4 linked regions of the Homo sapiens genome follow. The protein of the gene in region 1 purifies or fractionates together with the protein of each later gene. This does not show direct contact. Each region holds a gene or a part of one and is shown on either strand. Other genes may lie near its edges.

Region 1 (4,941 bases):
GCAACACGCTAGAAGGGTTTATGAAATTCTTCGACTACTGGTAACTGACATGAGTGATGCCGAACAATACAGAAGCTACAGACTGGATATTAAAAGAAGACTAATTAGCCCATATAAGGTAGGACTTTCAAGAATCTTAAACACTGTATTCTTTTCACTGTTTAAAACAGAAGAAAAGCTACCAAATATCAGTATATGAGAGAGTCCAAGTCATTTTGTAAAATTAACTTTTACAAAAGTAGAAATATTCTTCCAGTAATTTATAAAAATTCTCACTCATGGCCGGGCGTGGTGGCCCACACCTGTAATCCCAGCACTCAGGGAGGCCAAGGCGGGTGGATCACCTCAGGTCAGAAGTTCAAGACCAGCCTGGCCAACGTGGTGAAACCCTGTCTCTACTAAAAATACAAACATTAGCTAGGCTTGGTGGTGGGCGCCTGTAATACAGTGACTTGGGAGGCTGAAGCAGGAGAATCGCTTGAATCCAGGAGGTGGAGGTTGCTGTGAGCCAAGATTGCACCATTGCACTCCAGCCTGGGTGACAAGAGCAAAACTCCATCTGAAAAGAAAAGAAAAGAAAAGAAAAAAAACCCGGGTGCAGTGGCTCACGCCTGTAATCCCAGCACTGTGGGAGGCCGAGGTAGGTGGATCACTTGAGGTCAGGAGTTCAAGACCACCCTGGCCAACATGGCGAAACCCCATCTCTACTAAAAATACAAAAATTAGCTGGGCATGATAACACGTGCCTGTAATCCCAGCTGTTTGAGAGGCTGAGGCACGAGAATCACTTGAACCCAAGAGGTGGAGGTTGCAGTGAGCTGAGATTGTGCCACTGCACTTCAGCCTGGGTGACAGAATGAAATTGTGTCTCAGAACAAACAAACAAACTTATCCCAAGGATAGTCTACCATGGTTAGCTTTTCTTTCATTTGTATGCATCTTTAAAAAATCTGAATGCCTAGTCTCTTCCCTAACAAATTATGTTGTTTTTCCCAAGTTTCTTGTCTTCTCAGTTGTTATATATATATATTCTCTTTTTTCTCTCTTCCCAGATAAAAGCAAAGTTATACATATATATTCTCTTTGCTTTTGCTTTCTTCTTCCTAAAAATAGCCTTTATTGCTATTTATTAATATAATCTTTGTACTTTACCATAGCCGAAACCATGTTAGTACTATTATATTTTTAAACATTCTTCTTGCCCTTTTTTCCCACTTCGTCGTCATCTTCCATATTTTCCCTCCTAGATCAAATTGGCCTTATCATTTGGACATTGTCAGGATGGATATTGTTTATGCCACCTTATGTGAATGAAAATTTGCTATCTAGGCAAGGCGTGGTGGCTCATGCCTGTAATCCCAGCACTTTGGGAGGCCGAGGTGGGCAGGTCACCAGAGCTCAGGAGTTCAAGACCAGCCTGGCCAACATGGCAAAACCTCGCCTCTACTAAAAATACAAAAATTAGTTGGGTGTGGTGGTGGGTACCTGTAATCCCAGCTACTTGGGAGGCTGAGGCAAGGGCATCACTTGAACTCGGGAGGCAGAGGTTGCAGTGAGCTGAGATCATACCACTGCAATCCAGGCTGGGCAATGGAGCAAGACTCCATCTCAAAAAAAAAAAAAAAATTTAAAAAAAAAAAAAGGCCAGGTGCGGTGGTTCACGTCTATAATCCCAGCAATTTGGGAGGCTGAGGCGGGCAGATCATCTGAGGTCAGGAGTTCGAGACCAGCCTGGCCAACATGGTGAAACCCTGTGTCTACTAAAAATACACAAATTAGCCAGGCATGGTGGGAGGTGCCTGTAATCCCAGCTTCTCCGGAGGCTGAGGCAGGAGAATTGCTTGAACCTGGGAGGCAGAGGTTGCAGTGAGCCAAGATTGCGCCATTGTACTCCAGCCTGGGTGACGAGCAAAATTCCATCTCAAAAAAGAAGAAAATTTGTCATCTAGTTGCAGCTGAGTAGTGGGATGATTGGCAGAATATTTAATTTATTCAACATATAATTATTGAGTACAGTTGCTCAATGATAAAATGTTGTTGCTGCATTTATATATACTATACCTATAGGGTTATACATCACAATAGCTGGGAACATAAGTGACCAAGTTGATTCTACATTACAATTTGAGAAAGTAAATTAACTAACTGTATCAGGTACACATAGTTTTGGTTTTCCTTTGTAAATTTAAAGAAAATTTAAGTTTTATTTGCCATGGATTCTGCTTTATAGAGCCAGTCTTGAATGCTGATGGTTCATTGGCTGACACTACTTGCTGAATCCCAACTTTTCCTTCATAGCATCTTTTTACTTTGCAGTGCAACTGTATTTCCTAATTTGTCATTGTAATTCTGTTCACATTCTGAATATAAAATTATTATTTGCCTATGACTAAATCATTTTATCTTGAATTCATACACAGATGTATGAATAGTTCCTCATAGTGTCATTTCATTGCAGTTTAATAGTTTTTCTATTTTACAGACCATCATCTGCATATAGCAGGTTTGTAATAAATTATAATGGTCTCCTCAAAAGTTATCCAAAGTAGCATTTTATTATTTGATGTTATCAATTCAGAAACATCAGAAAATGGGTAAAAATGGTATTTTCCAAAGGTTTTGACCTTTAAGTAATATTTGTTAGCTAGAAAATGTCTTAATGATGAAATTTGGGCACAGAGAGCAGTATAGATGGCAACATTTAAGAGTTATTAAGATTTTACTAAAGTAAAATAATTTATTGAATTATATATTTTAGATATTAATGTGACTTTTATATAAAATATAACAAATGAAAGATGGAAATTCTGAGTACAAATAGTAGTCACACAGCTAATGCCAAATAATGGGAACCTCTGTAGTTCATAAGTGCAAGTATTTTCTACTCTTAAAGAATGATAATTCTTTTTTATATTATTATTAAGTACCTTTACCTGTCCAGCCAGTTCACCAGTCTAAAAGGCCAGAACTGGGCCGGGTGTGGTGGCTCATGGCTGTAATCCCAGCAGTTTGGGAGGCCAAGGTGGGTGGATCACTTGGGCCCAGGAGTTCTAGAACAGTATATCCGAAACATGAAAGCTTCATATTTGCAATAATGCCACCCAACCAGGAATCCTGGAGTTATTCTTCATTCTTCCTTCCTCATATCACCCAGTATTTTCTCCCCTAAATCTGCCCTGTCCTCTCCATCTCTGCTGCTGCTGACTTGATCTAGGCTTTCATCAACTCTGGCTTGAACTACTGCAGTAGCTGCCCAGTCCTCCAGTCCCATCCTAAACATCTCTGACACAGTGTCCTGCATAAAAGTTGTTATCAGCTACCTGTTGCAAACTCCTTAGCATAGCGGTATCCTAAGTCAAACCAGGAGGGTTTAGTATGATAATGTATGTCTGGAACTTAATAAAGACTCAAATGCTATTTAATATATTTTTAAAGTATAGCAGTTTTCCATTTGTCTTTCTGAAACATTTCTAACAGTTTATGTTAAAATTAGCATGTGGCCCGTAAGTACTTCACTGGGTGGAATTTAAAATGTAATTAATTAATGACTGAATAGTAAAATGAAGAATAATAGCACTTAATCTCAGTTGTCTTTCTTCAGCTAATGTCTTCTATCTATTAAGCAAATATTTGAGTGTCTATACTGCCCAGAGTTCTTTAAAGTTTTGGAGGGGGCTGCTAGTCACATGTCTGTATTTACCATCATTGGACACAAATACCAGGTCTTCTTGTTAACTCTTTTTAGAGGGTTTGCAATTCATGGTTAACATTATGTTTAAGCTTCCTTAAAAAACAAAACAAAACAAAAAAAAAACATTGTGGGACAAGTTTGGGCGTATTCATACTATTCTTATTTTTAACATTGGAGACTTAAAATTGTAAGACTATAAGGAAATATATTTACTTTCTTCGTCTAACAAATAATTGTTTGTCACTTAGAAAAAGCAGAGAGATCTTGCTAAGATGAGAAAATGTCTCAGACCAGAAGAACTGACAAACCAGATGAACCAAATAGAAATAAGCATGCAACATGAACAGCTGGAAGAGAGTTTTCAGGAACTAGTGGAAGATTACCGGCGTGTTATTGAACGACTTGCTCAAGAGTAAAGATTATACTGCTCTGTACAGGAAGCTTGCAAATTTTCTGTACAATGTGCTGTGAAAAATCTGATGACTTTAATTTTAAAATCTTGTGACATTTTGCTTATACTAAAAGTTATCTATCTTTAGTTGAATATTTTCTTTTGGAGAGATTGTATATTTTAAAATACTGTTTAGAGTTTATGAGCATATATTGCATTTAAAGAAAGATAAAGCTTCTGAAATACTACTGCAATTGCTTCCCTTCTTAAACAGTATAATAAATGCTTAGTTGTGATATGTTAATGTGTGATGATATGATTCTTAAATACTTACAATAAACCTCATTCTTAAATACTTATCATTCCTTCCACACTTTGCTTCTAAGATTTTACATCTGACACCTTTAAAACATTTCTTTAAGGTTATCCTGGTAATTTTATTTTTTCAATATGATTTTTCTTTCTTTTTTAACTTTTAGATTCAGGGGTACATGTGGAGGTTTGTTACATAGGTAAACTAGTGTCTTGGGGGTTTCTTGTACAGATTATTTCAACACCCAGATACTAGGCCTAGTATCCAATAGTTAATTTTTCTGCTATTCTCCCAACCTCCACCTTCAAGTAGGCCCCAGTATCTGTTGTTCCCTTCTTTGTGTCCATGTGTTCTCATCATTTACTCCCACTTGTTAAGTAAGAACATACAGTATTTGGTTTTCTGTGCCTGTGTTAGTTTGCTAAGGACAATGGCTTCCAGCTCCATCCATGTCCTGGCAAAATACATGATCTTGTTCTTTTTTATGACTGCATAGTATTCTGTGGTGTGTATATACCACATTTTCTTTATCCAGTCTGTCACTGA
Region 2 (9,215 bases), on another chromosome or scaffold:
ATCCCAGCCATCTCCTATTTTCCCTATGGAGACCTCTCACCCAAGCTCCTCTCTCCTTGCCGTGAAGACCCTCCCCTCCAGTAACCTTTTTTTCCTGTGAAAACCCCTCAACCCCTTTTCAGGACCTCTCTCAACCCCATCTTCCCATTTGTGTCCCACCAGTCCCCTCCCCAACCTGCCAATATTTCAATAACCCCACGCCCACCAGTTGCTGCCGCTTTTCTGCCCCAATGCACATACCCTGGAACCTGGTTTCTCTCCTTCGTTGGGGCCCAACCCCCCTATGCTTGAGCTCTCCCTGGGAAAGGATGCTACCGTCTTTGAGGGGAACTTTGTCTCCCCAGCTCCCCTTCCCCACCTTTCTCTGTGGGCTTGGATAAACACACTGAGATCCGAGGGGTGGCATAGCCAGGCAGGCATTAGCTAGTTCTCCAGGTTTGCCCACCCGTTTCCAGCTGAGTTACTGCAGCAATTTTTCTGTCACTTTTTCTTTCTTCTTCTTCCTCTTCTTTTTTTTTTTTTTTTTTTTGAGACAGTCTCACTCTGTTGCCCAGGCTGGAGTGCAATGGCACGATCTCGGCTCACTGCAACCTCCACCTCCCGAGTTCAAGCGATTCTTCTGCCTCAGCCTCCCGAGTAGCTGGGACTACAGGCGCCTGTCACCACGCCCAGCTAATTTTAGTATTTTTAGTGGAGGCAGCGTTTCACCATGTTAGCCAGGTTGGTCTCGAACTCCTGACCTCAAGTGATCCACCCGCCTTGGCCTCCCAAAGTGCTGGGATTACAGGCGTGAGCCACCGTGCCCCGTCTTCTTCTTTTTTTTTTTTAATATAGCTGGATAATCAGTGCCAAGCTCCCGTTGCTTTTGATGGTCTGACCTAGTCTGGGGGGTGGGTGGATTGGGCTGAGCTGTGACGGGCTCCAGCTTCAAACAGTCGGCTGGAGCTTGGAGGTCACAGCCTCCTGTACATCTTTTCCAAGGTGCTTCCGTAGATGTACTTATTAATCTGTGTGACTTAAAGGTGGGCATGGCTCTCATCTCACAGATGAGAAGACAGGAGCCACAAAACGCAAAAGACCTTTCAAGTCAAGGCCTGTACAAATCCAAAATCTAAGGTCACCTAGGGAGCCTTGGCACCACTAACAGGCAAGTCCTGCTTTCAGGAAGAAGTACTCCATTAGGCCATTTTTCTACTTGGTGGTTGAAAGAGAAAAGGCAGCAGCCGAGGAGGTGGTGATCTGGGGGCCTGTGAAGCCAGGATATGCTAACTAGTGCCTCTCGGGGGCAGGTAGGTGTTTTGCCCTCAAAGCTGGTCGCCTGGACTAGCTTGGAGCTGATAGAGTGAGATGTGGATGTGCTTTGGGTAGGCCAGTGGGTCTGTCTCTCCCCGGTCTCTCTCGCTCCTTTTTAAATTAAGGAGTCTACTTGTGGCTAACTATAGAATATGCCGAGTTAAATCCTTTCTGGAACAAGGCAGCGGGTAAATAAATAAATAAAGTGTAGAATGACGCTGTGGAATAAGATTTAATTTAAAAGCCAGGAGGAGATGGAAGGAAGTAATAGGTTGAGGGATTCCCAGCTCCCCGACGGCAGGAGATCAGGTTTCAATCAGCCTGTTTGTGTTCCTTGCATTTAAAAATGGTTGTGGCCGAGCGCGGTGGCTCACGCCTGTAATCCCAGCACTTTGGGAGGCCGAGGCGGGCGGATCACGAGGTCAGGAGATCGAGACCATCCTGGCTAACACGGTGAAACCCCGTCTCTACTAAAAAACACAAAAAATTAGCCGGGCGTGGTGGCGGGCGCCTGTAGTCCCAGCTACGCGGGAGGCTGAGGCAGGAGAATGGCGTGAACCCGGGAGGCGGAGCTTGCAGTGAGCCGAGATCGCGCCACTGCACTCCAGCCTGGGCGACAGAGCGAGACTCCGTCTCAAAAAAAAAAAAAAAAAAAAAAAATGGTTGTGCGGTCATTATCTGGTACTTCTACTCCTAGGAAGCCCCTGCCCTGTGACTTTACTAACTTATTTATAGAATTAGAGCCGGAAGGGCTAAATTCAACCTGCTGGTCCTTTTTTTGTTTTTTTGGAGATGAAGTCTTGCTCTTGTCCCCCAGGCTGGAGTGCAATGGCGCGATCTTGGCTCACTGCAACCTCCACCTCCCAGATTCAAGCGATTCTCCTGCCTCAGCCTCCCGAGCAGCTGGGATTACAGGTGCCTGCTATGACGCCTGGCTAATTTTTGTATTTTTAGTAGAGACGGGGTTTCACCATCTTGGCCAGGCTGGTCTTGAACTCCTGACCTCAGGTGATCCGCCCGCCTCAGCCTCCCAAAGTGCTGGGATTACAGGCGTGAGCCACTGCGTCCAGCCTCTGCTGATCATTTTTTAATAGAAATGGAGTGACTTCACCAGAGTCACACAGCCAGTTTGTAGAAGTATTGGCACTGAAGTTTTGAATCTAAATTCTTTATCTTTGCTCCAATCCAGGGAAAGAAAGGAAGGATTCCCTGTTTCAGGGGTGGAGCATAGATAGGAATGACCACAGAATTTATTGCCTAATCAGGACACTCAAAATGCAGTGAAGGGAAGTGCTATTATTATTATTTATTTATTTATTTATTTATTTATTTATTTTTGAGATGGAGTCTCGCTGTGTCACCCAGGCTGGAGTGCAGTGGCGTGATCATGGCTCATTGCAAGCTCCGCCTCCCGGGTTCACGCCATTCTCCTGCCTCAATCTCCCAAGTAGCTGGGACTACAGGCGCCCGAAACCATGCCCAGCTAACTTTTTGGATTTTTAGTAGAGACGGGGTTTCACTGTGTTACCCAGGATGGTCTCGATTTCCTGACCTTGTGATCCGCCCGCCTCGGCCTGGGATTACAGGCGTGAGCCACCGTGCCCGTCGTATGATTATGATGATGATGATGATTATTATTAGAAATGGAATCTCACTATGTCACCCAGGCTACAGTGCAGTGGTGCAATCTCAGCTCACTGCAATCTCCACCTCTCGAGTTCAAGCGATTCTCCGGCCTCAGTATCCCAAGTAGTTGGGATTACAAGCTTGAGCCACCATGCCCGGCTAATTTTTGTGTCTTTAGTAGAGACGAGGTTTCACCATGTTGGCCAGGCTGGTCTCAAACCTGATCGCAAGTGATATGCCCACTTCAGCCTCCCAAAGTGCTGGGATTACACTTTGAATCCTAAGCGCCTGGCCAGAGAATGCTATTGTTAATTGTACCTGGATGATAAAGCTTTTCCTTTGAGTAACTCAAGTGAGAAATCCTGGCTCTTCCAGTCCTAGGGCTCTCTGTGACTGATCTGCCAGCTTGCTTTCTGCCTCCTTCTGGACTCCTCTCCATGAAAAAGGGAGAATCTGCCTCACTCTCAGCAGCGTCAACTGAAAATCTGACAAAACCCCCAACCCAGCTGTGTGAGGTGGCTCATGCCTGTAATTCCAGCACTTTGGGAGGCTAAGGAAGGAGGATCTCTTGAGCCCAGGAATTTGGGCCAGCCTGGGTAACATAGCAAAACCTTGTCTCTACAGAAACATCAAAAAATTAACGGGACTTGGTGGCACGTGTCTGTGGTCCCAGCTACTCAGGAGGCTGAAGTGGGAGGATTGCATGAGCCCAGGAGGTCAGGGCTGCAGTGAGCCATGATTGCACCACTGCACTCCAACCTGGGTGAGAGAGCAAGACCCCCATCTCAAAAAAAAAAAAAAAAAAAACCACCCTAACCCCTAAGCCCCAGTTGGGTGACCCCTATTTCTCAGGGGCCCCAAGCCCCCTTTGCACTTTTATCTTCCACATCTGGAAATAGATTCTTCCACATTTAGCTGAGAAATTCAACAGACACTGGTTGAATAAGTCATAGAAGCCAGATGTTCTGACCCAGAAATAACGAAGTTGTTATGGCAGCAGAGCTCATCTTTGATTATGAACAAAGGCAAAAAGCAAACAAACAAAGGAGGCCTGGCATGGTGGCTCACGCCTGTAATCCCAGCACTTTGGGAGACCAAGGCGGGCAGATTACCTGAGGTCAGAAGTTCGAGACCAGCCTGGCCAACATGGTGAAACCCCGTCTCTACTAAAAATACAAAAAATTAGCCGGGTGTGGTGGCGGGCGCCTGTAGTCCCAGCTACTCGGGAGGCTGAGGCAGGAGAATGGCGTGAACCCAGGAGGCAGAGCTTGCAGCGAGCCGAGATTGCACCACTGCACCCCAACCTGGGCAACAAAGCAAGACTCCATCTCAAAAAAAAAAAAAAAGAAAAAGCCAGGTGTGGTGGCTCACACCTGTAATCCCAGCACTTTGGGAGGCCGAGGCGGATGGATCACAAGGTCAGGAGTTCGAGACCAGCCTAACCGACGTGGTGAAACCCCGGCTCTACTAAATACAAAAATTAGCCAGGCATGGTGGCACGCAGCTATAATCCCAGCTACTCAGGAGGCTGAGGCAGAAGAATCGCTAGAACCCGGGAGGCAGAGGTTGCAGTGAGCTGAGATTGTGCCACTGCACTCCAACCTGGGTGACAGAGCGAGACTCTGTTTCAAAAAAAAAAAAAGAAAAAAAAAATGGCCAGGCACAGTGGCTTACCCCTGTAATCCCAGCATTTTGGGAGACCAAGGCAGGTGGATCATCTGAGGTCAGGAGTTTGAGACCAGCCTGGCCAATGTGGTGAAACCCTGTCTCTACTAAAAATACAAAAGTTAGCCAGGCTTGGTGGCAGGTGCCTGTAGTCCCAGCTATTTGGGAGGCTGAGGCAGGAGAAGCGCTTGAACCCGGGAGATGGAAATTGCAGTGAGCCCAGATTGCGCCATTGCACTCCAGCCTGGGCGACAGAGCAAGACTGTCTCAAAAAAACAACAACAAAAAAGCAGGAAGCAGACTTTTTAGCTAGTTCAGCTATACTAATTGTGTACATGTCTTTAGTCTTATCATTTATATATATATATATATATATATACACACAAACACACAGTGGAGGTATGTCTTGCACAGGGACTAGCTTGTGAAGTTAGCGCAGAGAGATAACATGGGACACAGTTGAGTTGCCTTGACATTGCTCAGAAGGTTAGGTACACACGTCATGTGTACAGCTGTGTCCTGTACTCATAGCTATGAGTTCCTGCTGTATTGGTGATTTGTGTCCCATGTATAATTCTAAAGAAAGATTATATTTAGAGATGAAATCATACACGTATGTCTCTACTTATAACACTGCAGCCAGATTTTTTTTTTTTTTTTTAAAGAGATAGGGTGTCACTATGTTGCCCAGACTGGACTTGAACTCCTGGGCTTAAGCAGTCCTCCCACCTCAGCTTCCTAAGTAGCTGGAACCACAGGTGCACATCACCATGCCTGGGCACTTCAGCAAATTTAAGATGATTCTCGACTGGGCATAGTGGCTCATGCCTGTAATCCCAGCACTTTGGGAGGCCAAGGCAGGCGGATCACAAGGTCAGGAGATCGAGACCATCTTGGCTAACACAGTGAAACCCCGTCTCTACTAAAAATAGAAAAAAAAATTAGCCGGGCGTGGTGGGGGGTGCCTGTAGTCCCAGCTGATTAGGAGGCTGAGGCACAAGAATGGCATGAACCCGGGAGGCGGAGCTTGCAGTGAGCCGAGATCGTGCCACTGCACTCTAGTCTGGGCAACAGAGTGAGACTCCATGTCAAAATAAAATAAAATAAATTAGAATTACAGGTGCACACCACCACGCCCAGCTAATTTTTTATATTTTTAGTAGAGATGGAGTCTCACTCTGTCACCCAGGCTGGAGTGCAGAGGCACGATCTCAGTTCACTGCAACCTCAGCCTCCCGAGTAGCTGAGACTACAGGGGCATGCCACCACGCCTGGCTAATTTTTTGTATTTTTTGTATCACCATGTTGCCCAGGCTGATCTCGAACTTCTGAGCTCAAGCAATCCACCCGCCTCAGCCTCCCAAAGTGCTAGGATTACAGCCATGATCCAATGATCCACCTCACCTGGCCCTATACCTATAACTCTTTTTTTCTTCCTTTCTTTCCTTCTTTCTTCTTTTTTTTTTTTTTTTTTTTTTTTTTTTTTTTGACGGAGGCTGGCTCTGTTGCCCAGGCTGGAGTGCAGTGGCAAAATCTCGGCTCACTGCAATCTCTGCTGCCTCCCAGGTTCAAGCAGTTCTTATGCCTCAGACTCCTGAGTAGCTGGAATTACAGGTGCACACCATCATGCCCAGCTAAATTTTTATATTTTTAGTAGAGATGGGGTTTCACCATGTTGCCCAGGTTGGTCTCGAACTCGTGAGCTCAGGCAATCTGCCTGCCTCGGCCTCCCAAAGTGCTAGGATTACAGGTGTGAGCTGCCGTGCCCAACCAGCTTCTGTAACTCTTGAGTCAGTATTTCTCTACAGCCGTTAGTTAATTCTCCAGTTTCTTTCCAGCCCTGGTTGAAAGAGCCATTTCAGCCCCTGTGCCTGACAGTCAACACAGTACATTTTTTCTTTTTCTTTTTTTTCCTTTGAGATAGGGTCTCTGTCGTCCAGGCTGGAATGCAGTGGCTCGATCATGGCTCACTGCAGCCCTGAACTCCTAGGCTCAAGCGATCCTCCAACCTTAGCCTCCCGCATAGCTGGGACCACCGGCACGCGCCACCACACCCAATTAATTTTGTTGATTTTTAATAGAGTCGAGTCTGCCTATGTTGCAGGGGCCCATTTATTTCGGTGAGTTTCCACATGCTCTTTGTTTAGGTTTTGCCGATTAGTATTGACCTCAGCTGGACAACATCAGGTGCTCGTGGGTACACTTTAGTCTTTTTTGTCTACCTTCCCAGGACATGAATTAAATGCACCCGTACAGGATTCTACCGGCTATGAGAGGAAAGGGCTCAAGGATATACACCAAAATGATACAACTGCTTTAGAAAGGAGAGAGCAGGGCTGGCTGGCTTTTCTGTCTTCCCCCAAAACTTGATTCCAGTTGTGTCACTACTTGTAACAAAAATAAATCAACAGGCTGGACATGATGGCTCAGACAAATTCCAGCACTTTGGGAGGCCAAGGCGGGAGGATTGCTTGAGACCAGGCTGGGCAACCAAGCAAGACCTCATCTCTAAAAACAATTTAAAAATTCCCTGGGCGTGTGGCACAAGCCTGTGGTCCCAGCTACTTGGGAGGCTAAGGCAAGAGAATCACTTGAGCGCAGGAATTTGTGGCTGTAGTGAGCTATGATTATGCCACTGCACTGCAGCCTGGGTGACGGACCGAGACCCCATCTCCAGTGAAAAAAGTCAACTTCCTCCCTGCAAATAGTAAGAGGCTAGTTCGACCAAACACCTGTGAGTTCAATGGTCACCCGTATCCTACAGACCTGCTATAGGGTTCCTGAGTGAAACCACAAAGGGACAGGCAGCCAGTGCATCAAAGAAGGGCATGGGGCTCAGGTGACAAGCCTCTGTAGTCATGACCTGGCAGCAGCATGCTTCCAAAGTTGGATGCTCTTGTGGGACACTGGACCAAGGAACAGGGCAGCTTCTGAGAGAGTTTGCTTCCTGTGAAAATCACAGCTTGTGAAACTTCCCCCAGCTGCTAGAGCTGAAGGGTTGTGTAATTTCTAAAGAGCCAAAAATAAGTTTCAAGCCTCTTGCCAAGCCTCCCTGTACCAGCATGACCTTGCCCCTGATACACTTGGACCTCCTGCAAGAGGCCATGTTGACCGGAATTTCCTGTGATTGACAGCCAGAGGTTCCATAAGCACTTTCCTTTCATCTCAATGGAGCATATTCAGGGGAGGGGGCCCTCCTGCTGGATGGGGTGCAAGAGTTAGGGTTTGAGGCTGGGCACGGTGGCTCACACCTGTAATCCCAGCACTTTGGGAGGCGGAGGCGGATGGATGACCTGAGGTCAGGAGTTCGAGACCAACCTGGCCAACATGGTGAAACCCCATCTCTACTAAAAATACAAAACATTAGCCGGCTGTGGTGGCGGGCGCCTATAATCCCAGCTACTCAGGAGGCTGAGGCAGGAGAATCACTTGAACCCGGGAGGCAGAGGTTGCAGTGAGCCGAGATCTCACCATTGCACTCTAGCCTGGACAACAAGAGTGAAACTGTCAAAAAAAAAAAGTGTTTGGAGGATCACCCCGGGATGCCACATTTGTTGACTGAGTTGCCCAAATGTCTCTAAGTAGGCATGACTTGGTGCCAGATCTGGAAGACCAGGGTGGCTGGCTCCCTGAGCAACCTCACCTTCCCCCTCCTGCAGGCTGGCTCTCCTGCCGGATTGGAATCTGCCACCCTGCCCCAGTTGTCGAGGGATCCACTTCGTTGAGTGGCACCGGTCCCTGTGTGTGAAAGAGGATGCTGCTTCCTATCCCAGCACCCAGTGGGCAGGGCCCTGAAATGACCCAACTCCCTGCCGTTCCCTTCTCAGCACGTCTGTGTCACGTGGCTCTTAATTCAGCCTCTGCCATACAGTTCACGCTCAGGCCTTGAGAGGCCCAGGTTTCCCCAGAGGTATAGTCAAGGTCACCTGTCATAGCTAGGCTTACAAGACAGAATTCCCTAATGGAGGTAGAGCTTTGTGCCCACCTCAGCATTCAAGACTGCAGTGCCTGGCACTAAGTGTCTGACAGATGGAATAATAGTCTTTTAACATATTAAGGATCTGTCTAAAATTACCACAAGGCTGGGCACAGCAGCCCACACCTGTGATCCCAACATGGTGGGAGTCCGAGGCAGGAGGATCGCTTGAGCCCAGGAGGTTGAGGCTACAGTGAGCCATGAACATCCCGCTGCACACCAGCCTAGGCAACAGAGGGAGACTGTCTCAAAAAATAAGTAAATAAAAATAAAATAGAAGATGTGGCCGGGCGCAGTGGCTCACACCTGTAATCCCACCAGTTTGGAAGGCTGAGGCGGGCAGATCACTTGAAGTCAGGAGTTGGATACCAGCTTGGCCAACATGGTGAAACCCCATCTCTACTAAAAATACAAAAACAGGCCAGGTACAGTGGCTCACACCTGTCATCCCAGCACTTTGGGAGGCCAAGGCGGGTGGATCACCTGAGGTCAGGAGTTCTAAACCAGCCTGATCAACATGGTGAAACCCTGTCTCTACTAAAAATAAAAAAATTAGCCAGCCATGATGGCAGGTGCCTGTAATTCCAGCTACTCAGTAGGCTGAGACAGGAGAATCGCTTGAACCTGGGAGGCAGAGATTGCAGTGAGCCAAGAT
Region 3 (9,215 bases), on another chromosome or scaffold:
TAAGGTGAGACTAATAATGTGTTTTCCAACCATCCTTCATGTTTCTCTCAGAATCAGAATATTCTGGTCCTCTAAAAATCAAATGCTTATGCCAAGCATAGTGGCTCACACCTGTAATCCCAGCACTTCAGGTGGCTGAGGTGAGAAGATGGCTTGAGCCCCAGCCTGGGCAACGTGACGAAACCTCATCTCTAAAAACAAAATACAAAAATTAGCCAGGCATAGTGGCACACATCTGTGATCCTAGCTACCCAGGAGTCTAAGGCAGGAGGATCACCTGAGCCCAGGGAAGGTCAAGGCTGCAGTGAGCCACGATCGCTCCACTGTACTCCAACCTGGGCAGTGAAGTTTAATACTGATGATTACATATCAAGCACTGTGTTTTGGATAGCCTAGCTACATTTAGTCAGTCCAGAAACTTAAATACTATGGTACATCCTATGAGTAACCCCCTTGAAAGTATTGTGTTTAGGATCAACCCTAAACAGTATTCAGTATTCATACCACCCAAATACCAGATTAACTCACAAGAAATTTTGTTGTTGTTTGTTTTTTTTTTTTGAGAGTTTCGCTCGTCACCCAGGATGGAGTGCAGTAGCGTGATCTTGGCTGACTGCAACTTCCACCTCCCGGGTTCAAGTGATTCTTCTGCCTCAGCCTCCCAAGTAGCTGGAATTACAGGCGCTAGCCACCACGACCGGCTAATTTTTGTATCTTTTTTAGTAGAGACGGGGTTTCACCATGTTGGCCAGGCTGATCTTGAACTCCTGACCTCAGGTGATTCACCCACCTCAGCCTCCCAAAGTGCGTGAGCCACCGCGCCTAGCCCTATTTTGTTTCTTTCCTTTTTTTTTTGGAGACAGGGTCTCACTCTGTCACCCAGACTAGAGTGCAGTGGCAGGATCATAGCTCACCACCACCTCGACTTCCTGGGCTTCCGCAATCCTCCTACCTCAGCCTCCCCAGTATCTGGGACCACACGCAAGTGCCACAACGAACAGTTAATTAAAAAAAAAATTTTTTTTTTTTGTACAGATGGCGTCTTGCTATGTTGCCCAGGCTGGTCTCGAACTCCTGGGGTCATGTGATCCTCTCAGAGATGGAGGTCTTGCTTGGCCTCCCAAAGTGTTGGGATTACTGGTGTAAGCTACCACACCCAGCCAAGCAGTATTTCATAAGACTTATTTTAACCCTTTTCCCGTTTAAGAGAAAAAAAAAAAAGTACAGCTCATTGCCAGCACTCATTTAATTTTACATAAACATGTTCTTTGAAGCTGAAGCAAATCTGACTTTCAGCATGAAAATAAAAATATAAAACTGTTCTCGGAGTTTTTTTTTTTTTTTTTTTTGGGGGGGGACAGTCTCACTCTGTCACCCAGGCTGGAGTGCAGTGGCACAATCTTGGCTCAATGCAACCTCCACCTCCCAGGTTCAAGTGATTCTCTTGCCTCAGCCTCCCGAGTAGCTGGGATTATAGGCGCCCGCCACCACGCTCAACTAATTTTTGTATTTTTAGTAGAGAGAGGGTTTCACCATGTTGGCCAGGCTGGTCTTGAACTCCTGACCTCAAGTGATCAGCCCACTTCAGTCTCCCAAAGTGCTGGGATTACAGACATGAGCCACCTGCCTGGCCGGAGTTATTTCTAAACACAACTAATATCAGAATCGCCTATTTCATAAAAATTGGATTCATCAAATGAATCTTTGGCCAACAACCATTTGAGAATGATGTTAACATCATACATAGGAATGCTACGTTTTCTAGGATTTGACATTTACAGCAATCGAGAATTACCCTATTTTGTAAATGGAAATAACCATTACTAAAAACAGAGTGCTATAAACAGAATGATGTCTTTTTATCCAAAATCTATATATTAGAGTGATGTGAAAATAATAATAAAGGAGAGCTATTTCATGGCAGTTTTCACTGGGTAAATGCAGCAGCCCCAAGCACCACCAGCAAGTATTCTCAGGGCAAATGGGAAAAGGGTTAAATAACCAAGATGACAACAGGATTTCAAACATGAAAAACATAAAACCCTATGGACGCTTAAAAAATGTATTTGTGGCCGGGTGTGGTGGCTCACGCCTGTAATCCCAGCACTCTGGGAGGCCAAGACGGGCAGATCGCCCGAGGTCAGGAGTTCGAGACCAGCCTGACCAACATGGCGAAACCCTGTCTCTACTAAAAATACAAAAATTAGCCGGGCATGGTGGTGGGTGCCTGTAATCCCAACTACTTGGGAGGCTGAGGCAGGAGAATCGCTTGAACCCGGGAGGCAGAGGTTGCAGTGAGCCAAGATCATGCCATTGCACTCCAGCCTGGGTGACAGAGTGAGACTCCATCTCAAAAAACAAACAAACAAAATATTTGTAAGATATTCTAACAGTAATAATTCTCAATCTTATCAGAAAGCTTTTCCATAACACATGAACCCAAATTTTATCTCAAGCTCAACAAATAAAATCAGCTGGGCATGGTAGATCAGGCTGGTAATCCCAACACTTAGGGAAGCCAAGGCAGGGGGATTGCTTGAGCCCAGGTTGGAGACCACCCTGGCCAACAAAGCAAGACTCCGCTTCGAAAAATATAATTCGGGTGGGCACAGTGGCTCACGCCTGTAATCCCAACACTTTGGGAGGCCAAGGCGGGCAGATCACCTGAGGTCGGGAGTTCAAGACCAACCTGGCCAACATGGTGAAACCCCATCTCTACTAAAAATAGAAAAATTAGCTGGGTGTAGTGGCACCCGCCTGTAATCCCAGCTACTTGTGAGACTGAGGCAGAATTGCTTGAACCCAGGAGGCAGATGTTGCAGTGAGCCAAGATTGCGCCACTGCACTCCAGCCTGGGCGACAAGAGTGAAACTCAGTCTAAAAAATAAATAAAATAATTAGCCAGATGTGGTGGTGCATGCCTACAGTCCCAGCTACTCAGGAGGCTGAGGCAGAAGAATCCCTTTAGCCCGGGAGTTCGAGGTGGTGGTGAGCTATGATAACATCACTGAACTCCAGCTTGGGCAACAGAGCAAGACCCTGTCTCTAAAAAATGAAACAAGAAATCTCTAGGGATGTAACCTACCATCTACCTTTTGGGTAAGCTTTTTAGTTAATTATTATGCCCACCTCTGATTAAGAAACATAGTCACTACGGGTGTAGATCTGAGATAAAGAAAAACAAAAAACCATAGCCATATCAAGATGGAAACGTTACAGGGGGAGGAGGTGAGACGGGCCTGGTAGTTCACACCTATAATCCTACACTTTGAAAGGCTTAGGCAGGGAGGAATGCTTGAGGCTAGGAGTTTGAGACCAGCCTTGGCAACATAGCAAGACCCCATCTCTCCAAAAAATTTAAAAATGAGCGAAGTGTAGTGGCATGTGCCTATAGTCCTAGCTACTCAGGAGGTTGAAGTGGGAAGATTGCTTGAGCCCAGGAGTTCAAGGTTGTAGTGAGCCCTGATTGCACACTGCACTTCGGCCTGAGCAACAAAGCGACACCTTGCCTCTATCAAAAATAAATTAATTAAAAAATAAAAATAACTTTAAAGTTATATTGCTCTTAGTTTATGTTTCTGATACGAATCTAACTACCATGTAAATAATCTTACCTCTCCACTTTATCTGCAGATGTAGAAGGAGCAGGAACATCTTCAATTCTGTAATAAAAAATTAAAGGGGAAAAAATGTAAAACTGGAGGCAATTATTAAGCCTGAAAATAAAATAAATTCAGAAAAATATAAAGGAATAAAAGAGCTGTCATTTATTAAATACTCAAGTATTATTTACTTACTTACATTATCAAATTTAATTCATTTAATTCTTACTCACTCAAATATCCAGGGCTGAAAATAAGTGGCAACTTCACAGCTATAACCACAGGGATGAGGAACAACTTAAAGGGCAGTGCTTTCAGCTACAGGTTGTAAGCTATCTGGGCCATTTGCCTAGAATCTTGAAATGGTCTTGGATCCTTATCTACAAACTCCGTCACAGCCAGTCATGTATATCGAATAGTTTTATTAAGAGGTCATTCTGACCAAATGGTCTAGCACAGAGCCTCTCAAACTACCTGTGGTTAAGGGACTAGGTCTTTTATTTCCCTATATAACCTTCTATAACACACAGGTTTTTTTAAATACAATGTCAGGGAGATATCACAGCGAGACTCCGTCTCAAAAAAAAAAAAAAAAAAAAAGTTACACTATGACTGCAATATAAGACTCTGAATTGAATACCATTAAAAGCAAGGAACCAGTAAAAACACTATTAAGTATCATTGTAAAGCATTTATCAGTGATAAATTTCTTTTCTTTTTTTTTTTTTTTTTTGAGACAGAGTCTTGCTCTGTCGCCCAGGCTGGAGTGCCCTGGCACGATCTCCGGCTCACTGCAAGCTCCGCCTCCCGGGTTCACGCCATTCTCCTGCCTCAGCCTGGGCCTGGTGCCAGGCCGGTGCCTGTGCACCGGCCACCATGCCCGGCTAATTTTTTTGTATTTTTAGTAGAGACAGGGTTTCACCGTGTTAGCCAGGATGGTCTCGTCTCCTGACCTCGTGATCCACCTGCCTCGGCCTCCCAAAGTGCTGGGAATACAGGCGTGAGCCACCGCGCCCGGCCGATAAATTTATTTCTATTCTTGCTTAGCACAAGCCTAGACAAATAGAAAAGAGGGTGAACTAAGGCAGTACTTGTATAGTTGGAAAAAAAGATGAATTAAAGCAGTGTTTCTCAAATTTTAGTCTGTATGCAAACCATTTGGAGGAACGGTTATAACAGTTTGAGCTCCACCCCCTACAGTTTCTGAGTCAGAAGGTTTGAGGTAAGGTTGAAGAATCTGCATTTCTAACAACTGCCCAGGTGACACACTGCTGGTTTCTAGAACCATGCTCTGAGGACTACTGGATCAGAATAAAAATTATAAATGGATGTTCATGTCCTATCTGGGCAATAGGTATGTCTGATTCAGTTTTGTTTTGTTTTTGAGACAGTCCTTCTCTGTTGCCCAGGCTGGAGTGCAGTGGTATCATCTCAGCTCCCTGCAACCTCTGCCTTCTGGGTTCAAGCCATTCTCCTGCCTCAGCCTCCCAAGTAGCTGGGATTACAGGCGCCCACCACCACGCCTGGCTAATTTTTCTGTTTTTTACCAGAGATGGGGTTTCACCATGTTAGCCAGTCTGGTCTCGAGCTCCTGACCTCAAGTGATCCTCCCGCCTGGGCCTCCCAAAGTGCTGAGATTACAGGTGTGAGCCACTGCGCCCAGCCTGATCCAGTTATTTTTTAAAATGTTAATTCTAATAGTCACTACATTTACAACTATGAAGCTATGGCTTCATAGTTTTATGACGTTCATTATGAATTTTTAGAATGAGCATGAATCCAGAGAAGTACTAGAGGAAATGATAGGGAAATTACTTGGTAATTTGTTTGGAGAAGGCCGTTTTAAACCCAGAAACCAGACTGGGTGCAGTGGCTCTCTCCTGTAATCCCAACACTTTGTGAGGCCTAGGTAGGTGGACTGCTTGAGCTCAGGGGTTCAAAAACCAACCTGGGCAACACAGCGAGACCTATCTCTACCAAAAATAAAATGAGATGGGCATGGTGGTACATGCCTGTAGTCCCAGCTACTCCAGAGACTGATATGGGAAGATTGCTTGAGCCCAGGAGATAGAGGCTGCAGTGAGCTATGATCATACCACTATACTCTAGCCTGGGTGAGAGAGTAAGACCTTGTTTCAAATAAATAAACAAACAAACCAGAAACCATAGGATATTGACAGATTCTACTCCATCTAATTCATTTCACAAAAGGTTAACTTAGCAAATATACATAGAATCTTAGTCAACAGGATAAAAAAGCCCAATGGGAATAGATTAATGGATTTAATATAAACACTCACAAACAAACAAACAAACAAACAAACACTTGACCACCTGCTACTGCTCATTCTTTTGTTTTTGAGACGGAGTCTCGCACTGTTGCCCAGGCTGGAGTGCAGTGGCGCGATCTCGATCTCGGCTCACTGCAAGCTCCGCCTCCCGGGTTCACGCCATTCTCCTGCGTCAGCTTCTCAAGTAGCTGGGACTACATTTTTTTTTTGTATTTTTAGTAGAGATGGGGTTTCACCGTGTTAGCCAGGATGGTCTCGATCTCCTGACCTCGTGATCTGCCCACCTCGGCCTCCCAAAGTGCTGGATTACAGGTGTGAGCCACCGCGCCCGGCCGCTCATTCTTAAGAGAAACAAAAAAACTATACTTAGAAAGTATGTTTTACCCATCGAATAGTCAAAGATAGGGTTAAGGAGAAATTGTACTCCCATACATTGCTAACAGAAATTCAAGGCTAGGCTCACAGCTATAATCCCTGCACTTTGGAAGGCAGAAGGACTGTTTGAGGCTAGGAGTTTGAGACCAGGCTAAGCAGCAAAATGAGACCCCTTCTCTAGTTCAAAAAATTAATTTTAAAAAAAGAAGTGTAGCCTGGGCACGGTGGCTAACGCCTATAATCCCAGAACTTTGGAAAGGCAAGGTGAGTGGATCACCTGAGGTCAGGAGTTCGAGACCAGCCTGGCCAACATGGTAAAACCTCATTTCTACTAAAAATACAAAAATTAGCCAGGTGTGGTGGCGGGCGCCTGTAATCCCAACTACTTGGGAGGCTGAGGCAGGAGAATTGCTTGAACCCTGGAGGTGGAGACTGCGGTGAGCCTAGATCGCACCAGTGCACTCCAGCCTGAGCAACGGAGTTAGACTCTGAATGACTACAGTCATGCGCAACCACGCCTGGCTGATTTTTGTATTTTTAGTAGAGACGGGGTTTTGCCATGTCAGCCAGGCTGGTCTCGAACTCCTGGCTTCAAGTGATATGCCCGTGTTGGCTTCCCACAGTGTTGGGATTACCACGTGAGCCACACCACCTGGCCCTTTTTTTTTTGAGATGGAGTCTTGCTCTGAGGCTAGAGTGCAGTGGCACAATCTCGACTCACTGCAACCTCTGCCTCCCGGTTTCAAGCGATTACAGGACCCTGCTACCCATGCTCGGCTAATTTTTGTAAACTGTAGTCTCAGCTACTTGGGAGGCTGATGCACAAGAATCGCTTGCACAGGGGAGGCAGAAGTTGCAGTAAGCCAAGATCTGGCCACTACACTCCAGCTTGGGCAAGACAACAAGACTCTCTCTCCAAAAAATTAATTATATATATATATATATATATATATATGAAAAAACTCAAGACAAACCTCATAGCCTAGAAATGTTGAATTAACAAAATGTATGTAATCAATGCATAAAAGATATGTAGGTACTAGTCTTCTTCACTACCATAAAATACAAATTATAAAAAGTTAAAATTCATCAAAACACACAGACCATACACGGCACCATCCACAGTTGAGATATGTAAATGAACAAAGATGCAGTATTAAATCATAACTGCAGCCGGGCACGGTGGCTCACGCCGAGACCGGCTGATCACCTGAGGTCAGGAGTTCGAGATCACCCTGGCCAACATGGCAAAACCCCAAAAAATTAGCCAGGTGTGGTGGTACACACCTGCAGTCCCAGCTACTTGGGAGGCTGAGGCAAGAGACTTGCTTGAATCCGGGAGGGCGGAGGTTGCAGTGAGCAGAGATTGTGCCACTGCACTCCAGCCTGGGTGACAAAACTCCCTCTCAAAAAAAAAACAACAAAAAAAAACCAACTAAGAACTAGTTAGAAAGCTAAGAATGACAGGATTAATTTAGCATGTAGATATACATCACCTTAAACAATACTGCTTTAATGGCACGAGGGGACAAAAGCCAACCTAAGACTTTTTGCAGACGACAAAACTGTGGTCCAATATCACTACTGAAGCAATGAAGCTGCTATCAAAGCCAATTCTAAGCCAGGCGAGGTGATGCATGCCTGTAGTCCCAGCTACCCAGAAGGCTGAGATGGAAGGATTGCTTGAGACTAGGAGTTGGGAATCCAGCCTGGGCAACATAGTAAGATCCTCATCTCCTAAATTTAAAAAACCTGAACTGAGGTTTATTTCTCATTCCATTTTTTTTCTTTCTACTGGTTTGGAAGTTATATTTATTCTTTCAATGGTCATCCTCGAATTATAATGTACATTCTTACCTAAAGTCTAAATTCAAGTCATTTTCTTTATCCTACCCTTAAACATGAGGACCTTATAAACTTTACCTCTAAGTGTCCCCACTAACTTACTTAACTGAGACACACTGCTTTCATGTTCTCTCACACTAATTAGATGGGGAAACGAAGAATGAAAATGAAAATGAAAATACTAGCCAGGCTTGGTGGCTCACGCCGGTAATCTCAGCACTTTGAGAGGCCCACGTGGGTGGATCCCTTGAGCCTAGGCGTTGGGAGACCAGCCTGGGCAACATGGCAAAAACTCGTCTTTACAAAATAAATACTAGAATCAGCTGGGCCTTGTGGTGTGCGCCTGCAGTCCCAGCTACTCGGGAGGCTGAGGCCGGACAATCACTTGAGGCCAGGAGGTAGGGGCTGCTGTGGGCCGAGATGGCATCACTGCACTCCAGCCTGGGTGACACACACACACACCACACACACACACACACACACACACCACACACACACACACACACACACACACACACACACACACACACACGGCACGGTAGGGGCTGCAGGGGGCCGAGATGGCATCACTGCACTCCAACCTGGGTGACAGAGACCCTGCCCCCCCACCCCCACACACCCAGCACATATAATTGCTCAGTTTTAGCTTTCAATTTATGCTGTGAGGAACTAAATGGTTTGCTTTCTTCTAGCCACATATACATAAACTTTCTCTATGTATAACCTGCCAGGAAACTAAATTCACTAATGACCTAACTCTGGCTAGACACAGGGGACCTGCAAGAGGTATTTGTTGCATACTTCTACCTCAAAAAACAAAAACAAAAACACCTGGCCCTGCGCCGTGCCTCACGCCTGTAACCTCAACACTTTGGGAGGCCAAGGCGGGAGGACTGCTTGAGTCCAAGAGTCTGAGACCAACCTGGGCAACATTAAGACCTTGTATCTACAAAAAATTGGCCAGGTGTAGTGGCACACCTGTAGTCCCAAGCTACTAGGGAAGATCAGTTGTGCCCAGGAGTTCGAGGTTGCAGTGAGCTATGATCACAACACTACACTCCAGTCTGGATGTGAGATCCAGACCCTGTCTGCAAAAACAAAA
Region 4 (9,215 bases), on another chromosome or scaffold:
ACAGGTATTTCTCAAGTGTTGCCTTCCATTTTAGGAGTCAGCTCTGAACAAAGAAGATAGATGACTCAGGATGTCGTTACAGGGCTTTTACATTGCATAGATGAAACCAGCCATTCATAAAGCCAAAACGTTCCATTTTTAACTGGGATCCATTCAGAACCCAGCTGAATCACATCAGGGATTTACAGTACTGGTGTCAAAAACATACTTATTTCCAATGGTATATTTCACTTCCTAGGCACCATTACTGAGCATTTATTTAGTATTTTAAAAAATATTTTAAGCTGAGTCATACTGAAGCTGCAAAGGAATCTTTCAAAAAGGTGCCATGCCTGTATACTCCACCTAGAGGCTATGTGGATTAAGGAAATTTTTACTTAGCAAAGGCTTCTAATAGGTTCCATACTTTTATATTACAGTTCTTTTAAAAATTCTGTTCTTAAAATTAAACTATAGAATTTTTTTTTTTTTAAATGAGACAGTGTTGCTCTGGCACTCAGGCTGGATGGAGTACAGTGGTGCAAACACAGCTGCTCCCTGCAGCCTCAACCTGGGCTTAAGCAATCCTCCCACCTTAGCCTCCTGAATAGCTGGGACCATAGTCGATGTGCCACCACATTGGGCTAATTTTTTAATTTTTTGTAGAGACGGAGTTTTGCCATGTTGCCCAAGCTGGTCTCGAACCCCTGGGCTCAAGCAGTCCTCCCACCCCTGCCTCCCATAGTGTTGTGATTATAGTGAGCCCACTGCACCCAGCCCAAACTATAGAATATTTTGAAAAGAATTTTCTTAATAAGTTATTTTGCCTCAAGTCTCAAAGCAGAGTTTGGCCACCGTTTTTCATACTTTCATCAGTAGCCCCAAACGTTCACTTTCCTTTAAGAGCTGCCCTGTAGCTTTGCTTCAGAAAAAGCCTTGAGGAATATTTGGTCTTAAGATAATTTGGTTCTTTCTAATATAGGGCTTATATCAAGGGTTAAGACAGCCTGAGACCCTGGCTGGATGTGCTTGATGGTCACCAAGACTGTACAAGTTTTGATTGACCATCCTGCCATTCTTAAATTTATATATATATATATCTTAATTACAGCTACTGTCAATTGAATACTTATAATATACCAGAATTGAGCATGGTGCTTCATACTTTCCAACTTCAGCTTGTTCTAATTCCAAAGCCTACATACTTTCCACTAGACCACAGGTCTTCCCAAGTAGTGTAATTAGCTAAAAATTCTCTTGATGACTTCCCTCATTCACTCACTCTTTCACCACAAATGTAAATACTTTCAGGCTGGGTAAATCATTTAATCATGATTACTGTGATTAAATAAAAGTTAACTTTAAAATAAATGAACAAATTTCTTCACCTGAGAACTTATGTAAAACATCTGACCTTACCCTTCCTCCCTCAAATACAGGGGGCAGAGGAATTAAATGAAAGCTGGGTTAAAAAAAAAAACAACAAAAAAACTGATGCCAATGTATAAAAGGGTATTGAGCATGTAAAACTCAGCAACTGTAGCAAGCATCCCATAAACATAAAAATCAATGTACAAGTGTTCCCTGAGTTGCAGCCTGTTCTTGTTAAGGCTAGATTCTCTCTCCATCTCCTCTGCTCTCACTTCCCCTGCAAATAAATTCCCTTATTCCACTGCTAATTTCAGAGCTAGAAAGAATTTATCTTCCCAGTTAGGTTTTCAGAAGAAGCCCGGGGTTTGTAGTTACAGAGGCATAGCTTGGATTCTGATTCTTTGATGTACAAATTATGAATTTGTGTAGATTACTTAACCTCTCAGAGTCTCAAGTTATTTGCATAATGGGGATAATTTGATCTACATGATGAAGCTGTTGAGGTTTAAACAATAGGTATGAAGTAGAACTAATGCCCAGTATATAGTAGGTATTTTCTAAAATAGGTTTATAAATTATGGCTATGTTCCTATGCCAGTCCACAAATGCGAATTTATACCACTTAGGATCAAGGGCATTATATGTAGTGATACAATTATATATGAAATTAAAATTCATGAAAACCTTTATGTAATAATTTTTTTTTTTTTTTTTTGGAGACAATCTCGTTCCATTGCCCAGGCTGGAGTGCAGTGGCGCGATCTCGGCTCACTGCAACCTCCGCCTCCAGGGTTCAGGCGATTCTTGTGCCTCAGCCTCCCGAGTAGCTGGGACCACAGGCATGTGCCACCCCTAATTTTTGTACTTTTAGTAGAGATGGGGTTTCACCATGTTTGCCAGGCTGGTCTCGAACTCCTGACCTCAAGCCATCCAGCCACCTTAGCCTCCCACAATGCTGGGATTACAGGCGTGAGCCACTGCGCCCAGCCACTCTATGTGATAATTCTTAGTCTTATCCTCACTTGGCTAGTTTAGTACCTTTCACATCACTTTCTTAAAACAGTTTCTTCACTTGGCTTTTGGGTCACCTACCTCATTTGCCACTTGTTTTGTAACTTAATTTGTCCTCTTATCTTTGGAGGGCTCAAATCTCACTCCCTAGAGCAAGCCCATGTATTTTTATGGCTTTACATATCATTGACAGGTTCCAAATTTTTATCCTGCCTATTCAGTATCTCTGCTTAGAAGCAGACATCTCAAATATGTCTAAAATGAACTCCTGATTGCTCCCCTACCCCACATCACCTCCCTGCAAAAGTGGCTCCTGCTGCTTTCATCTTCAGGATTTTATCCAGAATATAACTGTTGCACAGCCCCATGGCCACACGAGGTCCATGCCACCATAATTTCTTGCCTCAATTATTGAAATATTGTTTCTTCCCTTGTCCTCTTACACTCTATATTGAACACAGCAATCAAAGCATTCCTTTTAAAATGAAAGTTGGCTCCTGTTACTGCTCTGCTCAAAACCCTTCGATGGCTTCCCATGCCACGCAGTGTGAAAGCCAGAGTCCTTATGATGGCCTTCAAAACCGCATGATCTGGCTGTTCCCCTCATCCTCAATCATAGGGTTTGGTGCTTTCCTCCTTCCTTTCATTCTGCTCCAGCCCTAGCCTCCTTGCTTTTTCTTGCCAAGTGTGCCCTACCCCTGGGCCTTTGTATTTGCTGTTCCCTCTGGCGAGATACTTATATTGCCTACTTCCTCTCTATCTCCATCAACAGATGATCTCAGGAGATGTCAGATGCAGCACCCTGCATCTGGAAGTGTGCTGGAAGCTGGAAATAGAAATGGTTTAGTTCTAGGACAGAGCCATGACATAATAGGTCCTCAGAAAATGATTGCTGACTTAATAAGAGAAAATAAAAAAGGAGCTTTCAGTTGATTGTAGTTTACAATACAATATAAATAAGCAGTACGTTACTATTTCTATTATCAATTTAGGGAACAAAAATATCTACAGTTACACAAAAATGGCCACACATGGTGGCACTAACTAGATTGTCATGAGTGACCCAGAAACTCACCCTTTGGGAGTGCTTGTGTAACAGTGTGTTGAATGCAAGAGGCAGGCCACACAGTGCAAAATACCCAAAGAAGATGAAGAGGTCTCTCAGAGATGGTTTGTATTACAAAGTTATCTTCTTCCTCAGCTAAACAGGAGACTCCTCCAAAGAGTTCTACTCATCTCTGGGTTCACTTCACAGAACACATTGTAAAACATGCTCAGTAAAATCCGCTATATTGAATTACATATAACGCCTTGAATTGCACCTGAATGTCTTTTCCTCCTGCCTATCTCCACTGTGTATACTCTATTGTATCACGTGGTGTAAAGATCTTGGTTTCCTCTGCCCAATTTAAAGAATGTATGACACAGGGGGGTGCCGTAAGGGAAAAACCCTACCATTGTTCGTTGACAGTTGATGAGCTGAAGCCACTTACTTCTGAGCCATGAGGGAGGTTTTACTAATAATTTTTCTACTTTGGAGCTCTGTGATTATTTGGATCTCTGCAGCGTAGTATAGGGCTGCCCTTCCAAAGTGTGTTGAGAAGGGCCTTAAAAGATGATATACAAAAAAAGGGGGATTCCATAGCCAAATAAATTTGGGAAGTGCTGGATTAATGTTACTGGTGTTCTTTACTGAAGGATATCTCAGAAAACTTACTGTGCCAGCATGCTTTATGAATCCTCAAGACAAGGTTTACAGCATTTCCCAAGTGTTTGGCTATGTTATCTTGTTTGTGAGGCACTGTCCAGGAACTAGTGTTTCACAAAAGAGTATTTTGAGAAACTCTGATCAAAGTGTGAACTCTGGTAGGAACTTTATAAGGAGCATTTCACTGCCTTTCTGGATTGCTATGAGAAGCCAATTTTAAAGCCAGTAAGTGGCTAAGTGGACATTAAAAGGGTCTTTGATGTCATCTGGTAATGTAATTACTGAATATGAAATAATGCTTTGGTTTTTTAACCCTAGACTTGGAATGGAAAATTATCTATGTGGGCTCTGCAGAAAGTGAAGAATACGATCAAGTTTTAGACTCTGTTTTAGTGGGTCCTGTTCCCGCAGGAAGGCATATGTTTGTATTTCAGGTAAGATTAATCTTGGTAAATGTGTATGCCAAATATGTTTCGAAGTAGACTATATTATCTATTATCTTATAACCCTTATCCCTTTCCTTTTGGGTTAAAGAACTGCTTCTGCTGCATTCACTTTAAATCTGTTTCCATCATGTTTTAGGCAGTCTCTGTGTCACAGAGGAACTCTTACTTCCTGGTTTTATATGCTGAGAGATGTTAATGTGACGTTTACTTTAGAGAGATGAACAACCTACAGTAAATTTTATACTGTATCATGGCACACAGGGTGGTGAATTTGGGGCTCTTCCTGTGAATAGCACCTCAGTATCAGACTTCCAAGGTGGCTGTCTAGCAACCCAAAACATGGATTCAAAATATCTAAAACTAACTGGCATTGTTAGTAATATGCATCTTCAGTTTATGGTTTCAGCCACTGGAACTGATGGTGATGTAACAAAAACAACTTTATTTCAGCATAATCAGTAGTTGAGCTAGGTTAACAGATACGTTTAGTGGATAGAGATGTGTGGTCTTGGGTCATTGGAATGACATTCCAGAGTTTACTAAAGCATCTTATAATCTACATTATCTTATAAGAGGACTACTTTTGCAAATTTACTACCCCACTAGGTATTTGTGAAGAGAATTTCTAGTAATAAAAATTTTGTTCTTAGATACCACTGAGAGTATTTGGATCTATACCAAGGCTTCAGACATTGTCTTCTATATTCAAAAGTGTTATTTCTTTTAATCCATGTTAAATTGCTATATGGAACCATTCAGTTATTCCTCAATTATGCATGCTTATTTATAAGGGAGATGTTTGTAATAGACCAAAGAGTAACTAGCCATAGGTTTTTTAAAACTACTATTAATTTCTGTTACAAGTATTTCAACCCAGCAATGTCCCATCAGTTAAGTGGAACTCACTGAAAAGACTTAATCCAGAAAGAAAATCTAACTCTTCCTATGCCTGACCTCTGTTTTCTCACTTCACAGATGGGACCAATTTAAATGAATACCATTGGTCAAATAATCCCATCAGAAACTGGCAAAGAATCACTTAGACACATGCCATCTCTAGAGCTGCTACCTTTCCCTCCCCTGTCCTAAATACAGAATTTAGAATCTTGGTTTCCTAGCCTTAGTACTTTTGATTAAAAAGCAACAAATAATTTACTGTATCTAAAGAAATAGCTAAGAAAAGCTCAAATATACTAATCAAATATATGAATTAAAAGTGCTGTTAATCAAAGTTGTGTGAGTGCATAACCATGTAAAAGACATGGGTAACAGAATGCCCTGTTCTGTAGAAGGAAGCACTGCAGTTATAGATATAGGTCAAATCCCGACACCTCTGTATTAGCCATGTGTGGCTTTACCTCTCTAACCTCCTCCCTTAGTCATTCCAGTCTTCTATAAAATGTGGATAATATTCTATCTCATTAAAATGTTATGGGGAATAAAACAGTATAATCAGTCACTCATAAAGAGTGCCCTATTCCTAAAATTAGAACTACATTTTTATTCTCTTAACTTCTTGAAATTGTTATATAAAAAAGCAGGACTTGCTCTGACCCACAGGCCTAAGGAACCCATACTTTACTGATAATTCATGATACAGTAAAAGAAACCTGGGTTGACAGGTACTGATAATACTTTTTTTTTTTTTTTTTTGGCTACTATAAGAACTTACAAATAAATGCCTTGTTATTGAAACAAACCCTTGAAAATCTTTTGTGTTTGTTATTAAGCATACTCCTAAGCTTTTGGCTGAAAGTGCTGTAGCAAAAAAAATGTATTCAAAAGTATTTCCTGCTGGTGATCTTCACGTAGTTTTACCTTGGTGTCAGTGTACATGTTGCCAAAAAGAACAGAGGAGGTACAATGTATATTCAGCCTAAAGGTTTTACAGAATTCACCATTATCAACAGAAAGAGACTAAATTACAGCTTTTGTTTTGTATTTTAAAACTACTATAGTAATCTCTTGGTCTGCCATGATTTTGCCTCTCTAAATAGTTAAACATGTCTTTCTTCTGAGTGAGTCAAAGGCTAGCAGGAAGATGTCCAGACATCTGCCTAGTATTGCCAGCTAGAGTCAAAACAAAGATCTCTGCTCATTACTTCTGCATCCTAAATTATTTGAAAGGCCTGTAAGCTTCTCTACTTAAATTTGCTCAAACTGAATCTTTTTCAAATTGTAAAATGCTTTTTAAAAGATGTTTTATATTTACAACAGATTTTAAAACAGAAACATGCCTAGAACCAATTTACTGAAGGGAACCAATTTACTGAAGGGAAGGGGAAGAGTTCTCATAGCAGTACTGAACTATTATATATTTCCCATCTCCACCCACTTCAGGTATATTAGAATCCGTTTGGGTACACTGAAAGTAATCTAACCCCTCTGTGCAGGGGTGTGTAGAATCTCTAAGACAAACAGCATATTCTCCAGGACAAGGCTGGCTGTCCCCTATCCTGGTGTCTTGCCAAGAGATCATAAACCCCTTCAGGGCAGGAACTGATTTACAAATGAATTCCAAAATACTAAGTGCTCAGAGCTGAGCCACACGAGATTATAAAGATGAACTGGATGGGACTCCTGCCCTGGATAAAGCATAGCATCTAGAAGAGAAGACTGAAAAATAAACATGTTTAGATCACAGGGCATACGTTCTTAGATAATTTGTGACAAGAAATATCAGCACATAAAAAAGGAATCTATTGATTCTACCTTCTGAGTTAGAAAGGGCGTCACTGAGAATACACTCGATGTAAGCTCCAAAAAAGATTAAAAGATGAATTTTTCAGGATGTGAGCGAAGGACCTTTCAGGCCAAGGGAACAGTATGTTAGAAGCACAGGGGGTGAAGTATTTCTTTTTTAAATTTGTTTTTGTAGAGATGGGGTTTCGCCATGTGGCCCAGGATAATCTCAAATTCCTGGGCTCAAGTGATCCACCCACCTTAGCCTCCCAAAGTGCTAGGATTACAGGCGTGAGCCACCGTGCTCAGAGCGTGAAAAGATTATCACCACGTTTTAAAGAACCTGTGTGATTCATATCTCTAGAACAATGGTGGAGTTAAAGGAGGTATGAATGGAGATATTGGCTGGAGACAAACTGAGAAGGGCCTTGTCAATGAAGTTAAAGAACTGAGATTTTATCCCTTAGAAAAGGGAATACTCTTCTGAGGGTTTTAATAATCTGAGGTTTTAAAACCAAAGAGAAAGAACATATCTGTGTTAATGCTGGTAGCAGTGCAAATGATAGGCTAGAGCTGGGGAGATCAGTTAGAAAATTCTAAGCAATATTCCAGATAGGAGATGACATGAATTCAGCCTCCAGAAATGAAAAAAATGTTGAGACTGACTAGATGTAGGAGATAAGGGAGTGAAGCTGACTGAGGTTTTTAGCCTAGGACACTAGGTAGCGATTTTATGCCTTTTTGTATCATCTACCTGTGTTAGGCATACAGTAAACAACAGTCTTCAATTTTCACAAGCTAAGGCATTGGCTAAAGTGCTCATCTAGGCCCAGGAATATTCCTTGGTGCCCTGGCAACAGGTAAGCTAATTTGCTGGGACTTGATCCATTTACCACCCAGAATGGCTGCCTCAGATGCCTCAGCCATCACTGCCTGTGTTCCCCAGTCTGGCTCCTTCCATCCGGTCGTCTCATTACTACCTGCACCCTACCACGGATGGGGCCCTGCCCTTCGCTCATGCTCTTAGTCTAGTCTAACTCAGTTTACTTTCTGCATTCCTCAAGGTTCACCTTACAATAGCTTGATTTAAAACAAGGTCTTTGACATCTGCCTAAAGCAATCCTTACCTTCACTGGTTTCCACATTATGTGTGGTTTAAAGAGCATACTATATTGTAGAGTCTAGCAAAGTAACTATTCATAATAGAGGATTATTAATATTTTTTGAAAATCTGCTATGTAGCTATTTCCATCTCATTTTCAGTTTTGTTTTGTTTTGTTTGAGACGGAGTCTCACTCTGTCGCCAGGCTGGAGTGCAGTAGTGCGATCTCAGCTCACTGCAACTTCCACCTCCTCGGTTCAAGTGATTCTCCTGCCTCAGCCTCCCAAGTAGCTGGGACTACAGGCACCCGCCACCATGCCCAGCTAATTTTTGTGTTTTTAATAGAGATGGGGTTTCATCATGTTGGCCAGGATGGTCTCAATCTCTTGACCTCATGATCCACCCACCTTGGCCTCCCAAAGTGCTGGGATTACAAGTGTAAGCAACCACACCCAACCTCATTTTCAGTTTTATACTAATTTACTATTAGAATACCTGTGGGGGTGGTTGAGTGGGTATGAGAATATAAGTATCCTGGGTTGAAGAGGGAAACTGGTATAATAAACATTTGTGGCCAACAGTCTATGAGGAGATCATTTAATACTTACTAATTTAGGTCTGAAAATTATGACTGAAAAGGTTAAAATCAATTGCTGACTATAAAGGTTTTATAATGAATAGTGTATAATCCTTTCATGAACCACCATGCAGTGTAGCCAGAATTTCTTCCTTTTACAAGTGTAGTCATGCTTTCAAGTATCAAGGGTCCTTACATATATTGTGGCAAAACATGAACTGTCTTTTCCAGCTTATTATAAGTCAGTCAGAAATGAGCATTTTCCTTCCCAGTATGATTTCCAAGTTTTTCTTGTTGCATCCTCAACTGATGGTTCTAGGTAACTGAAACTCCAGTCTT

What was found.
Region 2: the proteins of HAT1 (region 1) and ASF1B purify together in Homo sapiens (affinity purification with mass spectrometry; 7 studies listed by BioGRID and IntAct, with this or other methods). This does not show direct contact.
Region 3: the proteins of HAT1 (region 1) and NASP purify together in Homo sapiens (affinity purification with mass spectrometry; 3 studies listed by BioGRID and IntAct, with this or other methods). This does not show direct contact.
Region 4: the proteins of HAT1 (region 1) and ASF1A purify together in Homo sapiens (affinity purification with mass spectrometry; 5 studies listed by BioGRID and IntAct, with this or other methods). This does not show direct contact.

The regions. Positions count from the first base shown.
Region 1 is NC_000002.12:171,979,246-171,984,186, forward strand, and holds the end of HAT1 (histone acetyltransferase type B catalytic subunit), read left to right. Parts: intron 1-1; coding exon 2-118; intron 119-3,939; coding exon 3,940-4,107; 3' UTR 4,108-4,441; downstream 4,442-4,941. UniProt on the Homo sapiens protein: Histone acetyltransferase that plays a role in different biological processes including cell cycle progression, glucose metabolism, histone production or DNA damage repair. Coordinates histone production and acetylation via H4 promoter binding.
Region 2 is NC_000019.10:14,126,536-14,135,750, reverse strand, and holds part of ASF1B (histone chaperone ASF1B), read left to right. Parts: intron 1-9,215. UniProt on the Homo sapiens protein: Histone chaperone that facilitates histone deposition and histone exchange and removal during nucleosome assembly and disassembly. Cooperates with chromatin assembly factor 1 (CAF-1) to promote replication-dependent chromatin assembly.
Region 3 is NC_000001.11:45,585,670-45,594,884, reverse strand, and holds part of NASP (nuclear autoantigenic sperm protein), read right to left. Parts: intron 3,663-9,215; coding exon 3,615-3,662; intron 1-3,614. UniProt on the Homo sapiens protein: Component of the histone chaperone network. Binds and stabilizes histone H3-H4 not bound to chromatin to maintain a soluble reservoir and modulate degradation by chaperone-mediated autophagy.
Region 4 is NC_000006.12:118,896,379-118,905,593, forward strand, and holds part of ASF1A (histone chaperone ASF1A), read left to right. Parts: intron 1-4,387; coding exon 4,388-4,503; intron 4,504-9,215. UniProt on the Homo sapiens protein: Histone chaperone that facilitates histone deposition and histone exchange and removal during nucleosome assembly and disassembly.